Linked DNA regions of Homo sapiens. The protein of the gene in region 1 interacts with the protein of each later gene in a pairwise test. Each region holds a gene or a part of one and is shown in the gene's direction. Other genes may lie near its edges. The genes, in order: OTUD7B and CDIP1.

Region 1 (7,269 bases):
ATGGATACTCAATTTGGCCATGTGGATTGTTAGGAAGACCTGATTTTAAGGAGATTTGCAGACAGTTGGAAGTATAGATCCGATGCTCAAGGCAGATGTCACTCGTTCATGCATTGATTCAGGAGAAGAGTTATCCATTAATTCAACAAATATTTATTGAGTGACTACTGTGTGCCAGGTACTGTTCTAGATGCTCCAACAAAACAAAACAAACAAAAATACCTGCCTTCATGTTCTAGCAGGAGAGAGGGTCAATAAACAACAAATGTGATAACTAAGTAAATTATAAAGTATATTATAAACTGTTAAGTGCTATGGAGAAGAGTAAAGGGAATGATGAAGTGGGTTGTGATTTTTAAGTCAGGGTAGGCCTTACTAACAATGTGATGTTTAAGCAAATACCTAAAGCTAATGAGGAGTTGTCTGTGTGGATATATTGGGGAAAGAGCCTTCTAGGTAGAGGGAATAGTCAGTGGAAAGGCCCTAGAGTGAGAGTGGACTTAGCATGTTCTAGGAACAGCAAGGTCAGTGATGACTGGAACAGAGTGAGCAAAGGGAGTCAGAACAATTGGCTAATGTAATGATTTAGAAGTAAAATCATCAGTAATGATTTAGACGTAAAATTGTGAGTAAAACCAACCACTATTCTAAGTGCTTTCAACTCATCTAATCTTCATAACAGCTCTATGAGGTAGGCACTGCTACTATCATCTGCATTTTCACGGATAAGGAAATTGAAGCACAGAGAAGAGGCCAGAAAAGTAGGCCAGGACATACAAAGCCTTGAGTATCAAGCCAAAGAGCCTGAGTTTTATTCTGTAGGCAGTGGTAAGCCATTAAAAATCTCGATTATGGAACTAAAATGATCACAACTGTGCTTTAGAAAGATTAATCTCATGGGATTCTTTGGAATGGATCGGAGGTAGGACAGTAGGTGATAGGAATTGAATTAAGGTGGTAGTAGATGGAATACAACAGAAAGAAATGTGAGCAATTATACAATGCATATTTGTTGAATAATTTAGCTGGAGAAAGCATCAGAAAAATCCATTATGACAAATCTTATCATTTAAGGTCATTTCTTTAGTAGAATGGTGATTCTTAAATTTGGGGGAAACACTGTTTCCTTTGAAAAGCTGATGACAGCTATGAACTCTTTCACTAGAAAATGCACAAGCCCATGATCTTATATGCAGGTTTAGTGGTTTAGGACACACTAGAGTACATGTAGGCTAAGAACCTCTTTGGATCTCAGAATTAGGAGACCTGGGCCTGAGTCCTGCTGGGTCTGGTGTGAACTAGCTGTGACTTTGGGCAAATAATTTACTTCTCTAGACTTTATCTGTAAAAGGAAGTTTTAATTTTCGGTTACTAGATCTTTAAGGGCTCTTTTAGTTCAGAGGGACAAAGTTTCTATTTTCATGGCACTTACTTAGGAAATAGACAACAAATAAGTAAGTAAAGACATTTGATAAGTTAGATTGAAGTGTTATAAAGAAAATTAAAGCAGGGTAAGGAAAAGAAGAATGATTATGTGCATGCGTATTTGCATACTGGTTTTGATAGGATAGTTAGTGTGATCTTTGTGTCTCTATACTATGGTTGCACAGTTTGCTTTTTGCTTTGTCTCCTGACAGGAAAGAATTGGGATGTGAATGCCGCCCTCAGTGATTTTGAACAGCTACGTCAAGTCCATGCTGGAAACCTACCCCCATCCTTTAGTGAGGGGAGTGGTGGCTCCAGGACCCCTGAAAAAGGGTTTTCTGACAGAGAGCCTACTCGCCCTCCCCGACCCATCCTCCAGCGGCAGGATGACATCGTTCAAGGTACTGGGGTGACTGGAATGTTTCCGTATATGGAGTAGGAAGGGAGGGGATTGTTAAATGGAGTCATAAAGTCTAGTGATCCATTGGAGGTGATTCCATTTCTTCCCCTTCTCCCAGCCAAACCCAGACTGAGGTGGCCTCAGTCTGCCCAGGTGCTGCAGTCCCTCACTGCGTCTCTGCATCTTTAGTGTTATCCTGTATAAAAGCCTTCCTCAGATACTGTGAAAGAAATAGAGGAAGGAGGATAACAATCTCCTTGTTGATATAAAGTTCACATAAAGGTAGAATTGAAAGAGTCATTACCTCTTTGGGGGGTAATTTGTTAATATTTGCCAATATCTATCAAAATTAAAATGCATATGTACTCTGACTTAGCAATTTCATATCTAGCAATTTATCATATATGTGTATGTGCACATAAGTATTCTCTAAATAAATACATAAGGCCAGGTGCAGTGGCTCACACCTGTAATCCCAGCACTTTGGGAGGTCGAGGTGGGTGGATCACCTGAGGTCAGGAGTTCGAGACCAGTCTGGCCAACATGGTAAAACCCCATCTCTATTAAAAATACAAACATTAGCTGGGCGTGGTGGTACATGCCTATAATCCCAGCTACTTGGGAGGCTGAGGCAGGAGAATTGCTTGAACTTGGGAGGTGGAGGTTGCAGTGAACTGAGATTACACCACTGCACTCCAGCCTGGGTGACACAGTGAGACTCTGTCTACAAAAAAAAAAATAAATAAATGAATAAAAATTAAAAAAAGAAATACATAAATGCAGCATATAAGGATATTCACAGCAGCATTATTTTACAATAATTAAATCTTGAAACTTTTTTTTTTTCTTGAGGCAATCCATCTGACTTGGCCCCCCAAAGTGCTGGGATTACAGGTGTGAGCCACTGCACCTGGCCCTGAAAACATTTAATGTCCATTAGTAAAGGAATGGTTAAGTAAATTGTAATCATCCATGTTGTGGAATACTCTGCAATCATTAGAAAGAATTAGGCAGAACTTGGTGTACTGTTTTGGAAAAATTTCTAAAATCTATTCAGAAGGGGGCTGGGCATGATGGCTCACACCTGTAATCCCAGCACTTTTGGAGACCAAGGCTGGTGGATCACCTGAGGTCAGGAGTTCGAGACCAGCCTGGCCTACATGGTGAAACCCTGTCTCTGCTAAAATTACAAAAATTAGCTGGGCATGGTGGTGCACACCTGTAATCCCAGCTACTTGGGAGGCTGAGGCAGGAGACTTGCTTAAGCCCAGGAGGCAGAGGTTGTAGTAAACCTCTTAGATTGCACCACTGCTCTCCAGCCTGGGTGACGGAGTGAGACTCCATATAAAAAAATATATAATTTTTTTCAAAAAGGTAAGACACAATGCAATGTATGTAGTATACTCTCATTTGCGTTTTAAAAGATGATTTTAAAAGCTGTACATGCATTTTTAGTGGAGATGGGGTTTCACCGTATTAGCCAGGATGGTGTCGATCTCCTGACCTTGTGATCCACCTGCCTCGGCCTCCCAAAGTGTTGGGATTACAGGCGTGAGCCATCGTGCCCGGCCAAAACCTGTATATGCTTCTGTATGCATAAAAATTTCTAGAAGGATACAAAAGTTTGCCTCTGGGGAAGGGATCAGGAATTTTGAATGATAAGAAGACTTCCTTGTGAAATCATTTTATACCTTTTGATGGTATATTGATTTTTTACCATAGGCACATGGTACTGTTTTTGAGGCAGGGTCTTGCTCTGTCCTCCAAGGCTGGAGTGAGGCTGGTGGAACACAGCTCACTACAGCCTAAACCTCCTAGGCTCAAGGGATCCTACTGCCTCAGCCTCCCAAGTAGCTGGGAGCATGGGCACGCACCACCTCACCTAGCTAAATTTTTGATTCTTTGTAGAAATTAGGTCTCACTCTGTTGCCCAGGTGGTCTCGAATTCCTGGGCTCAAGTGATCCTTCTACCTTGGCTTCCCAAAGTTTTGGGATTACAGGTGTGAGCCACCATGCTCAGCCTACGAATACCTAAAAAATATTTTTAAGGTGGGTGTGGTGGCTCACGCCTGTAATCCCAGCACTTTGGGAGGCCAAGGCTGGCAGATCACCTGAGGCCAGGAGTTTGAGGAGAACAGCCTGACCAATGTGGAGAAACCCCGTCTCTGCTAAAATAAAAAAAAAAATTAGCTGGGTGTGGTGGCGTGTGCCTGTAATCCTAGCTACTCAGAAGGCTGAGGCAGGAGAATCCCTTGAACCTGGGAGGCAGAGGTTGCAGTGAGCCGAGACTGCAGCACTGCACTCCAGCCTGAGCGACAGAGCGAGACTCTGTCTCAAAGAACAAAAACAAACAAAACTAAAAAATATTTGAAAAATAACATCACTATAAGATAACTTTAGACAACTCAGTTTATTTTGTGTATCATATCTGGCAAATGTTGTATTAAGAACAGCCCAACATGCTTTTGAAATTTTGCCCCCTTTGGATCATCATTAAATCATTACATAATTGAAGCCATACAAATGAACTGTAATACTACATTGAGCAAATTATAATCACAGTGGAATATCTGCTTGGGAATTACAAGTGTCATGTATTCAAAACAAATGAAATGATGTGGGGTACTATCTACATTATTGTTCTCTATAGACTGTTAAGAATTGACTGTCCCTATAAATTTCTGATAAATATGGGTATTGAGAGTAGTTGTAGTAAGCAATATAAATTAATGTTATTGATGTAGGAAGAAAGTTCCCAAATGTGTAAGATTTGTTGTTGATTGTCTTTTTTTTTTTTTTTTGAAACGGGGTCTTGCTCTGTTGTCAGGCAGGAGTGCAGTGGCACAATCTTGGCTCACTGCAGCCTCCGCCTCCCAGGTTCAAGCAATTCTCCCACCTCAGCCTCCCGAGTAGCTGGGATTATAGGGGCACACCACCATGCCCGGCTAATTTTTGTATTTTTAGTAGAGACAGTGTTTCACCACGTTGGTCAGGCTGCTCTTGAACACCTGACCTCAGGTGATCCACCTGCCTTGGCCTCCCAAAGGATTTTCTTTTCTATAATGGATTTCTTTTATAATCTTTCTAGAATGAAAATACCCTTTAGAAAAGGTATTTCCCAAGACCCTGAGAATTACCAGAGAGGTTATTTGACTAACTCTAGTCTAGTGAAACCTCACTTCCCTTATTCCCTCTCCTCCCACCAAACAATGACCAAATTGCTAAATGAATGGGTCCCTATCACACTGGGAAATATGGAAGTGGAGGAAGACAGTCAGAGGGAGGGGAAGATCAGGCAAATTCCAAACAAGGGCAGAAAGAGGAATGAATAATTTGGTGCTAATGTGAGTGCCTACAAAAATACTGTCTCTATTTCTCCAATTGTATTTGGCTTCAGAAAAAGGGTTCTGAAATTCAGTAGTCAGTTAGACTTAGTTTTTCTCTGACTGTAAACCCTGTTGAGAGGTAACTATCACCACATCAGTGTAGAGTTCTCCAAGTGGGCTGTGTATGTTCTAAGGTGACTCCATTTCTCATTGCAGAAAAACGCCTGTCTAGGGGCATCTCCCACGCCAGCTCCAGCATTGTTTCCCTGGCCCGGTCCCATGTCTCCTCCAATGGTGGGGGTGGGGGGAGCAATGAGCACCCCCTGGAAATGCCCATCTGTGCCTTCCAGCTTCCAGATCTCACTGTATACAATGAAGACTTCCGCAGCTTCATAGAGAGAGACCTCATTGAGCAGTCCATGCTGGTTGCCTTGGAACAGGCAGGTCAGTGAGTGCTTCCTCTCCCACACTCTTCCCTCTACTCTCCACCTACAGGCAGCCTTGTGGAGGGGCTGGACTTGATCGCTAGCTTCCAGTTTAAGTGTGTTATCTGATTGCAAAGTCAGGAGTCAGTGGGATAAACTTGTGCTGTCAAAGAATGGATACAGATTAGATACTTTACTCTGGGAATTTCCTGGTTGATGGAAGAGAAACCAGATACACATGTGAAAAGGCCTAGGAATCAATACCTCGAAATCAATACATGAAAAAAATACAACTAATTATAATTGGCCCTGGAACACCCTTGTGAACAGAAATGACCAATGCTGTAGATGATGCACAGTAGTGAACCTATCCCCCCAAATGTATTTACGTTTGTAATTGTGTTTATCTTAAATTATTGTTAAAATTAATTCTTATCATAGGGTGAGGCAGCTGGGAATTTTGGAAAAGCTAATCAGGCATTAAAATGCTTGTGTGGGATAAGAACTGGAGTTAGATGAGGGCATGGAAAGGAAGCTTTTATTTTTCATTTTGTAACCTTCTATATTAACCATATACATCTATTTGTAATTTTTTTTTAAGTTGGTAAATTATCTGGTCTGGGGAGTTTATAAGCCAGTTTTTCATTCAGTAGTTCAAAAACTATGCTCCACAGTAGTTCAAGAAAACTTATGCATCACTCATAAGATATTTTCCTCATGTAAATAATGGGTTGGCAATTGTGGGATGACTGCATGGAATTAAGACTTATTTTCTTGGATATTTTATGTACTTTATCTTATTGCTCATTCCTTTAAAGTCACACCCCACACGTGATGACATGCTGTCATATATGCAGATGATACTCATAAAACACCTTAAATACATGCTTTGAGTTGTTTTTGTTTTGTTCATGATGGATTTTTGCTGAGCTTTGTTGCTGTGATACATACTGGTCTCCTGAGTGGAGGGAAGGAATCAGGGCCAGTCCAAGCAGTCAACAGTTTCAACTTATGTCCTTGGCCTCGTCATTTAACCCAGGGTTTCTCAACCTTGGCACTATTGACATTTTGGTCTAGATAATTCTTTGTTTTGCAAGCTGCCTTGTGCATTATATCATGGTTAGCAGCATCCCTGGCCTCTACCCATTAGATACCAGTAGCATCCTGCTACCAGTTGTGACATGCAAACATATCTTCAGTCATTGCCAGTGTCCCTTTGGGACAAAATTGACCCTACTCACTGATCTAACCAATTGTGCTCACAAGATTCTGACTGACTAGATATAAGTGAGGAAGATATAAAGAGTAATCAAGTGATGGTTTTATTCTGGGTAGGCCTCCTAGAGGAGGCTGCTTTGGAGTCTGTTTCAGAAATAGGAAGGTGGAAGGGCTTCATGGATAATCTCCTTTTCCTCCACTATCTTGTTTCTACAGGGCGTTTGAACTGGTGGGTGAGTGTGGATCCCACCTCTCAGAGGCTGCTTCCTTTGGCAACTACTGGAGATGGGAACTGCCTCCTGCATGCAGCCTCCCTTGGTGAGTCTTGAAAGCAGTCCTCCATTCACCTGCAGAAAGGAAGCAGTTGAGTCAAATCTCATGTGTAGGACTTGATCCAGATAACCTTGATCTTAGGCGGAAATGATGGTTCAGAGCGAGATTGTGCATGCTTACGTGTGTGTCTGTGTGTTTATGT
Region 2 (8,164 bases), on another chromosome or scaffold:
GTGCCTGTAATTCCAGCTACTTGGATGGCTGAGGCAGAAGAATCGCTTGCCAAGAGGCAGAGGCTGCAGGGAGCCAAGATCGCGCCACTGCAATCTCTGTCCCAAAATAAAATAAAATTTAAATAAAAATAAAAACAAAGATAAATAAATAAAATACGGATCATGGCTAGGTATGGTGACTCATGCCTGTAATCGCAGCACTTTGGGTGGCCAAGGTGAGAGGATCACTTGAGCCTAGGAGTTCAAGACCAGCCTGGCAACCTAGTGAGACCCTGTTTCTATTTTAATATAAATTAATTAATTAATTAAAATAAAACAAGAATCTAGTCATATTACTCAGCCCAAAATTCTCAACATTACATCACCCACTACCTACCCAATAGGATACAGTCTAAATTCCACAGATTGGTCTATAAGGCCCTCATGTTTCCTCACCCTCTGCCCTCCTCTTTCATATCCTACCACCCAACCATACAGAACTGCTTGCATTTCCCCACACACTCTGTGTTTCATTTCTCTGCAACTTTGCATTAGCAGCTCTAACTACTTGGAGTACCCTACCCCACTTCTTTCACCTGGGGAATCCTACACATCCTTCAAGCCCCAACTTAAACGTCCTCCTCTCTGAAGCCTTCCTTGTTCGGGCACTCCCTCTCCTGAACTCTCAAAGCACTCTGTTTTGACATCTTGAACATAAGCTATTATATTAGTCTCCCGTGCTGGACTGTGTGCGCTTTGAGGACAGAGATGGGGCTTTATTCCATTTTGTGTATTTCCAGGCCTAGAACAGGACCTTGCTTGGTCAAATGAGTAAATGAATAAATATTCTAGATCTGTGCTGTCCAATACAGTAGCCACAAGCCATATGTGGCTACTGAGCCCCTGAAATGTGACTGCTCCAAATTGAGATGTCCTGTAAATATAAAGTACACACTGCATTTCAAAAACAGTGTGAAAAAAGAGTAAAATATATCATTGATAATTTTTTTTTTTGAGACAAAGTTTTGCTTGTCGCCCAGGCTGGAGTGCAATGGTGTGATCTTGCCTCACTGCAACCTCCGCCTCCCAGTTGAAGCTATTCTCCTGCCTCAGCCTCCCGAGTAGCTGGGATTACAGGCGCCTGCCACCATGTCAAGCTAATTTTTTGTATTTTTAGTAGAGACGGGGTTTCACTATATTGGCCAGGCTGGTCTTGAACTCCTGACCTCAGGTGATCTGCCCACCTTGGCCTCCCAAAGTGCTGGGATTACAGGCATGAGCCACTGCGCCTGGCTGATAATTTTTTATGTTGATTACTGAAACAATATTTTGCATATATTGAGTTAAATGTATTATTAAAATTAATTTCACCTGTGTCTTTTTATACTTTTAATGTGGTTACTGGGAAATTTTTATTTTCAAATTTTTATTTATTTATTTTTTTAGAGACTGAGTCTAACTCTGTTGCTCAAGCTGGACTGCAATGGCGCAATTCTTGCTCACTGCAGTCTCAAACTCCTGGGCTCAAGTGATCCTCCTGCCTCAGCCTCCTGAGTAGGTGGGACTATGGGCATGAGCCACCACAGCTGGCTAATTTTTTAATTTTATAAATTTTTTTGTAGAGATGGGAGACTCACTATGTTGCTCAGGCTAGTCTCAAACTCTTGAACTCAATCTCCCAAAATGTTGGTATTACAGGTGTGAGCCACAGGGACCAGCCTGGAAATTTCTGGATTACATATGTGCTGGTCGCCCAGCCTTCTATTTGCCTCTCTTGGTCTAAACCATTCTCCACACTGTAGTCAGATGATCCTGTGAAATGTCAATCGAATCATATAAGTGGCCACAAACACTGAATTAAGCAAACACTGAACCACTGCTTCTGGGGGAACAACCTAGGTTCCTGTGAGCCTGTGGACACAACATTTTTGTCAACCAATCAATAACCTTGTTTATAGGTGTTTCTGTTTAAAGGCAACTTAGTTAATATACACTGTTGATTCAGTGCAATTGAACTCAATTGCCTGCACCAAGCTAACTGAGCACAGCTGTTTTCTCTATAAGGCAAATCACCACCTTCTTGCACTGAGGAATGCTAGACAGCACTTCTGCACAACACTAAGGGCCATTTTAAACACCAGAATCACCAATAAAAAGCGTAAAAATAAATGAGAAAAAGATGACACTAAATAGACCAAAAAGGAGACTTGTAGGCAGCGCTGCCCTATTATTTTTAGAGACAGGGTCTCACTCTGTTGCCCAGGCTGGAGTGCAGTGGCACAATCCCAGCTCACAGCAGCCTCGACCTGCTGGGCTGAAGGGATCCTCCCACCTCAGCCTCCCGAGTGGCTGGGATAGAAGGCGAGTGCCACCATGACAGCCCAGTGTTGCCTTATTTGACCTCAGTGGAGAATGTGCAGGATCGTTATGTCCATGAATGAATGAGAAAGCACCACAAGTATTGATTTTGGGATTAGAAATAAATGTTAGTGAGTAGGCAAATTTGCAAACACAAAATCCATAAATAATGAAGATTGACTGTAACTCTACTGCTTAAAACTCTTCAAGGGCTTTAAATTCCACTTGAAATAAAATCCAGGCCGGGCGCGGTGGCTCACGCCTGTAATCCCAGCACTTTGGGAGGCAGAGGCGGGCGGATCACGAGGTGAGGAGATCGACACCAGCCTGACCAACATAGTGAAACTCAGTCTCTACTAAAAATACAAAAATTAGCCAGGCGTGGTAGCAGGTACCTATAGTCCTAGCTCCTCAGGAGGCTGAGGCAGGAGAATTGCTTGAACCTGGGAGACGGAGGTTGCAGTGAGCCGAGATCGAGCCACTGCACTCCAGCCTGGTGACAGAGCGAGACTCCATCTAAAAAAAAAAAAAAATCCAAACTGCAGACAGGTATGGTGGCTTATGCCTGTAATCCCAGCTACTTGGGAGGCTGAGGCAGGAGGACTGCTTGAGCCTAGGAGTTGTCACAGTGAGCTATGATCATGCCACTGTACTCCAGCCTGGGTGCCTGATCAAGATCCTATCTCAAAAAAAAAAGAAAGAAGAATCCAGAGTTTTATTTTATTTTGAGAGAGTTTTGCTCTGTCTCCCAGGCTGGAGAGCAGTGGTGTGATCTTGGCTCACTGCAACCTCTGCCTCCTAGGTTCAAGCAATTCTCCTGCCTCAGCCTCCCGAATAGCTGGGATTACAGGCGTGTATGCCGGGCTAATTTTTGTATTTTTAGTAGAGACGGGGTTTCACTGTGTTGGCCAGGCTGGTCTCAAACTCCTGACCTCAAGTGATCTGCCTGCCTCGGCCTCCCAAAGTGCTGGGGTTACAGGCATGAGCCACCACGCCTGGCCAGAGTTCTTAAAATGACCTACAAATCTCAACATGACTTGGATCCAGCCTGCCCCACTGACATCCTCACCTTTCTGACTCTCTCACCCAAGGCAATCCCTCCCTCTGGAATGCCCTTCCAGAATAGAATGTCTTTTCAATTTCATGCCCCTGCCTCAGCATCGCCTCCTCTGAGAGGCCTTTTCTAACCAACCTGTCTAGTGGCACCACCCCGTAACTCTGTTAGGGCGTCCCTTCCTCTCCTTCACAGTCCTGGGCATTTTGTGGTTTCCTTGTATACTGTCTGTAACAAAGGAAGTACCTGAGCAAGTAGCCACCCAGTGGGTTCTTCTTCCTGGCTGCCCAGATAGAGCCAATGTATCAAGACAGGGGAACTGCAATAGAGAAAGAGTTTAATCCACACAGAGCTGGCTGAATGGGAGACCAAAGTTTCATTACTCAAATCAGTCTCCCTGGAAATTCAGAGCCTAGAGTTTTTAAAGGGTAATTTGGTAGATAAGCTGCCAAGGAGTAGGGAGTGCTGATTGGTGGGGTGGGAGATGAAATCACAGGGTGTTGAAGGATGCAAGAACTGGTTGAGTCAGATTACAGCTCTAGGTGGCCTTGGCTGGTGCATCAGACTGCAGGGTCAGAAAAACACCTAAGAGTACCAATCTTAGGTTTTACAATAGTGATATTATACCTAGGATCAACTGGGGAGGTTTAGAATCTTGTGGCCTCTGGGTGCATGACTCCTAAACCGTAATTTCTTTCTTTCTTTCTTTTTTTGAGATGGAGTCTCAGTCTCTTGCTCAGGCTGGAGTGCAGAGGCATAATCTCAGCTCACTGCAACCTCCATCTCTCGGGTTCAAGCAATTTTTGGGCTTCAGCCTCCCTAGTAGTTGGGATTACAGGTGCGTGCCACCATACCCGGCTAATTTTTGTATTTTTAAATAGAGACATGGTTTCACCATGTTGGCCAGGCTGGTCTCAAACTCCTGACCTCAAGTGATCCACCTGCGTCAGCCTTCCAAAGTGCTGGGATTACAGGCGTTAGCCACTGAGCTGGGCCCTAAACTATAATGTCTAATCTTGTAGCTAACGTGTTACTCTTACAAAGGAAGCCTGGTTCTCAGGCAACAAGGGGGTTTGTTTTGGGAAAGGGCTGTTAACTATCTTTGTTTCAATATTAAACTATAAACTAAGTTGCTCCCAAAGTTAGTTCTGCCTATGCCTAGGAATGAACAAGGACAACCTGGAGGTTAGAAGCAAGATGGAGTGGGTTAGGTCAGCTCTCTTTCACTGTCATAATTTTCTGTTGTAATTTTTGCAAAGGCAGTTTCAAGCGCAGGGACAGTGACCGTGTGGTTCAAGGTTTTATGTAATGCACCTCCCAAACTCAATAAATATTAGTCGCATAAAAGAAAAAATGCAGCCCTGGAGGAAGATGCCCTGCCCTGTTGCTGGCATGAGTGAAGAGGAGGCGCTCACAGGGACGGTTCTTTCCCTATTCTCCAGCCTCGTGTACATTGGGCAAACAGGCCCCGACCATCCCACGTGCTCAGCCCCAGCTCTAGGCCAAATCGCCTCCGCTCCCACTGACGTCATCACGGCGCATCACGTGCCTCCCGAGACCCCACCCCCCACCGTGACGTCCCGGGCCTCGGCCCTGGTCCAAAGTCTACCCGCCTCCTTGTGACAGAAGTGCGACTGCCAGCTGCCGAGGCGTTCGGTCCTGCTGTTGCGGCCGCTGCCCCAGGGCTGCGGGGACGGTGAGTCGACTGGACGCATTCGGAGACGGCTTCGCGCGGGAGCCCTCCTCCCCGGGGGAAGGGTCTGGGCGCCAGCTCTCCTCAGGTCGGGGCGTGACCTCGGACCGTGGCGCCCCCTCCCCGCCCCCGCCCGCGGCGCCTGGGCGGTGCATGCCGGGCACCGTAGTCCCCAGCCTCTCAGAGCGGGTTGTGGTGGGGGGGGTGACCGGGCGGACTACAAGTCCTAGAAGCCTCTGGGCGGTGGGGTGGGCGGTGGGTTGGGGGGTTTCGTTGTGCGCGCAAAGCCGCGCGGGGCTGAGGGTCTTGTTCTGCCGGCGCCTGTCCGGACCCGGGCCCCTCTCCGCTTTCGGCCGGCCTCGGGCACCGGGCTTCTGGAGGTAAAGCGGGGCCGGCGGTTGGGGCGCGGCATGGCGGGGCCCGTCCTCCCCTCAGGGCGCTGCCGAGACCTAGCGCGGCCCTGGGGATGTCGAAGCCGCTGCGGTGGCGGGGCCCGGGCGGGCGCCCCGCTGTGTGCCGCGGGGTTGTGCGCCCGGAATGGCAGCCTGCTCGCCCGCACGTTTTTCCGTCAGGGAAGGTTGTGGAAATTGCCATCTCCGTCTTGCAGGGCGAGACGGGGAGGGGAGGGGTGGGAGTTGTTTTCTCAAGGAAAGGGGGTCGAGGAGGAGCCCCGTGGCCGAGCCAGCCCCTGCCGAGCCCCGCGGGTGACCTTGGCCGTCCCGGAGCCCAGCAGTGTCCTGCACCCGCGCCCGGCTCGCCGACGTGTGGAGTCGGGATGTGGCGCTCGGCCGCGCATCCCCGGCGGAGATGGCGACGGCCTGGCCTAGCTTGGGGCTAGGAGTCGCGCCTTCGAGGACCTTGGCTTAGCGAGTTCCTTGGGGGGCTTCTCAACAGGTGTTAGATGAGGTGGGGCGAGTGGCTGTGAGTTCCTCCAAAGGTGGGCTCAAGATCCTCTGCGTCAGAACCACCTGGGGCTCTTGGGAAACGGGCAGATTCCTGGGGCCCACCCCAGGTGTTGGGATGCTGTAGTTCCGTCGCGCTGCCCAGGAATCTGCATTTAGTAGGCTCCCCAGATCATTCCCGGGCGCAGCTGGGGCTGAGAACCTGTCCCAGTGAGGGGGTTGGCGGGCCCGGGGGCAGGGACGTTCCATAGTGTTTCTGCCAGTTTCTTCTGTATTCTGGGGCCTGATGCTGGGCGGGGCGGTGCCCGGGCAAGTTACTGCTCTCCTGGGTTCTTTGCTGCTTCCCTTGGGGCCGATCTAGGTAGAACTGGGTGGAGGGAGGCGTGCCAGCTCTGCCTTGCCCTCTGCCCTTAATCGGAAAGGTTATGCCCAGTCACTTGCCAGTCTCAGAAGACTCCCCCTCTACACATTCAGTTACGAAAAACGTGAAACATACAAAAGTTGAAGGAATTTTACAGTGAACACCCACAGACCACCACCTAGAATGTAGAGTTAACACTTTATTGTATTTCATCACATATTTGTCCAACCAGCAGTCCCTCTTGTTTTTTGTGTCAAAGTAAGTTGCAGATATCAGTGCCTTTCCCTCCCAAATAAGCATGCATGTCATTAATTAGAGTCTTAGAATTGTTGTTTATTGGGTTTGACTTTTTTATCTTCTTAATGGTTTTTACCTTAATGGAAGCCCTGGGTATTTAGAAATCCGTCTCTCACCCTTGAGAATTTGAAGGAGTTCGGAGGTTTTCCACAGGATGGGAGAACCAGGGAAGAGCTTTACAGGTTCTCTTACAAAGGTTCATTTATTTATTTAGAGCCAGGGTCTTGCTCTGTGGCCCAGGCTGGAGTGCAGCGGTGCCGTCACGACGTTCACTGCAGCCTTGAACTCCTTGTCTCCAGCGATCCTCCTGAGTACCTGGAACTACAGGCATGCCCCACCATGCCCGGCTAATTTTTTTTTTTTTTTTTTTTTGTAGAGATGGCATGTCATTATTTTGCCCAGCTGGTCTCTAACTCCTGGGCTCAAGTGATCCTCTTGCCTCACCCTCCCAAAGTGCTGGGATTACAGGCAGGAGCTACCGTGCCCAAGTTCTTACAAGGATTTAAGAGCAGCCAGCCGTGGTTCTAGAATCACCATAAGAGCAGAACATTGACTGTATGATGTAAAGTAATACTTCAGGGAACAAAATTGTTTTGAGAAGGAGCTAACGGAATGCGTCCCGAAGGCCAGCTTGCCCCAGCAGATCACGTTGGCAATAATTGAAGCTAGTCATCAGCTTGCAACTCCCTGTCGGCTCTTTACACTGTAAGCTTGTCCAGGTTGAACCTACCAGTTCAGTGTGTGTTTTCTAAGGTCTAGGGGAACTGGGGTGTGTAGTGCAATTTAGCTCATGGTGTTGATGGACTAGAGGCCGTGGCTTTGAGACCCTTGGGCCCAGGTACTTTGTTCCTTAGCCACAAACACCAGCCCTTCACCCTACTCAGTTGCCTGAGTGGGAGAGAAAAGATAGGCCCTGTGAAAATTTGTCTCCACTTTGAGGAACATGGTTCCAAGGGTAAGGACATGTTTTTACTCATAGAAGACACAGGGAAATATGGTAGTTAAAGTTGTGGCATTTTATAGCATGTCACTGTCCTGTAGGTGGAGGAAGTGCTGGTGAGAAGGTGGCAGGCAGGGAGAGCTCTGCAGAGGACCTTGGCGCTCCATGGGGAGGATGGAGAGAGAGAGCCAGGCCGGCAGTGGTGACAGGAGGTTCCCTTTCCCCCACGAGGGGACTTGGAAATAGATTACTCAAAATGGAAATGTGCCCCTTTCTAGGATCCCACAAAAAGTTTCTGTTTCTGTCTCTGCCTAGTCAGGAGTCTCCAAGCCACAGTCTCTGTGGGAGGTGGTAAAGGCTACCTTGCAATACAGTGCAGCAGAGGTGGAGGCGCCTAGGGCCTGGGCCAGAACCTCCCCATGCCCAGAGGGCTGTCCACTCTTGGAGACACTGGTCTGGTGGCTCCTGAACCCGTGGGCCTGATGGCCCCGGTCACCACTTCTCCTACTCTGTGAGTCATCAGGCAGTGGTCCATGACATTGGTGGTGTCCTGGGACCAGGGCTGCCTAGACGTGGAGAC

What was found.
Region 2: the proteins of OTUD7B (region 1) and CDIP1 interact in binary tests that used the Homo sapiens proteins (3 or more experiments, as listed by UniProt).

Annotation. Positions count from the first base shown.
Region 1 is NC_000001.11:149,965,620-149,972,888, reverse strand, and holds part of OTUD7B (OTU domain-containing protein 7B), read left to right. Parts: intron 1-1,637; coding exon 1,638-1,826; intron 1,827-5,367; coding exon 5,368-5,595; intron 5,596-7,010; coding exon 7,011-7,112; intron 7,113-7,269. UniProt on the Homo sapiens protein: Negative regulator of the non-canonical NF-kappa-B pathway that acts by mediating deubiquitination of TRAF3, an inhibitor of the NF-kappa-B pathway, thereby acting as a negative regulator of B-cell responses.
Region 2 is NC_000016.10:4,535,625-4,543,788, reverse strand, and holds the start of CDIP1 (cell death-inducing p53-target protein 1), read left to right. Parts: upstream 1-5,015; 5' UTR 5,016-5,087; exon of another isoform or gene 5,088-5,188; intron 5,189-5,359; exon of another isoform or gene 5,360-5,464; intron 5,465-8,164. UniProt on the Homo sapiens protein: Acts as an important p53/TP53-apoptotic effector. Regulates TNF-alpha-mediated apoptosis in a p53/TP53-dependent manner.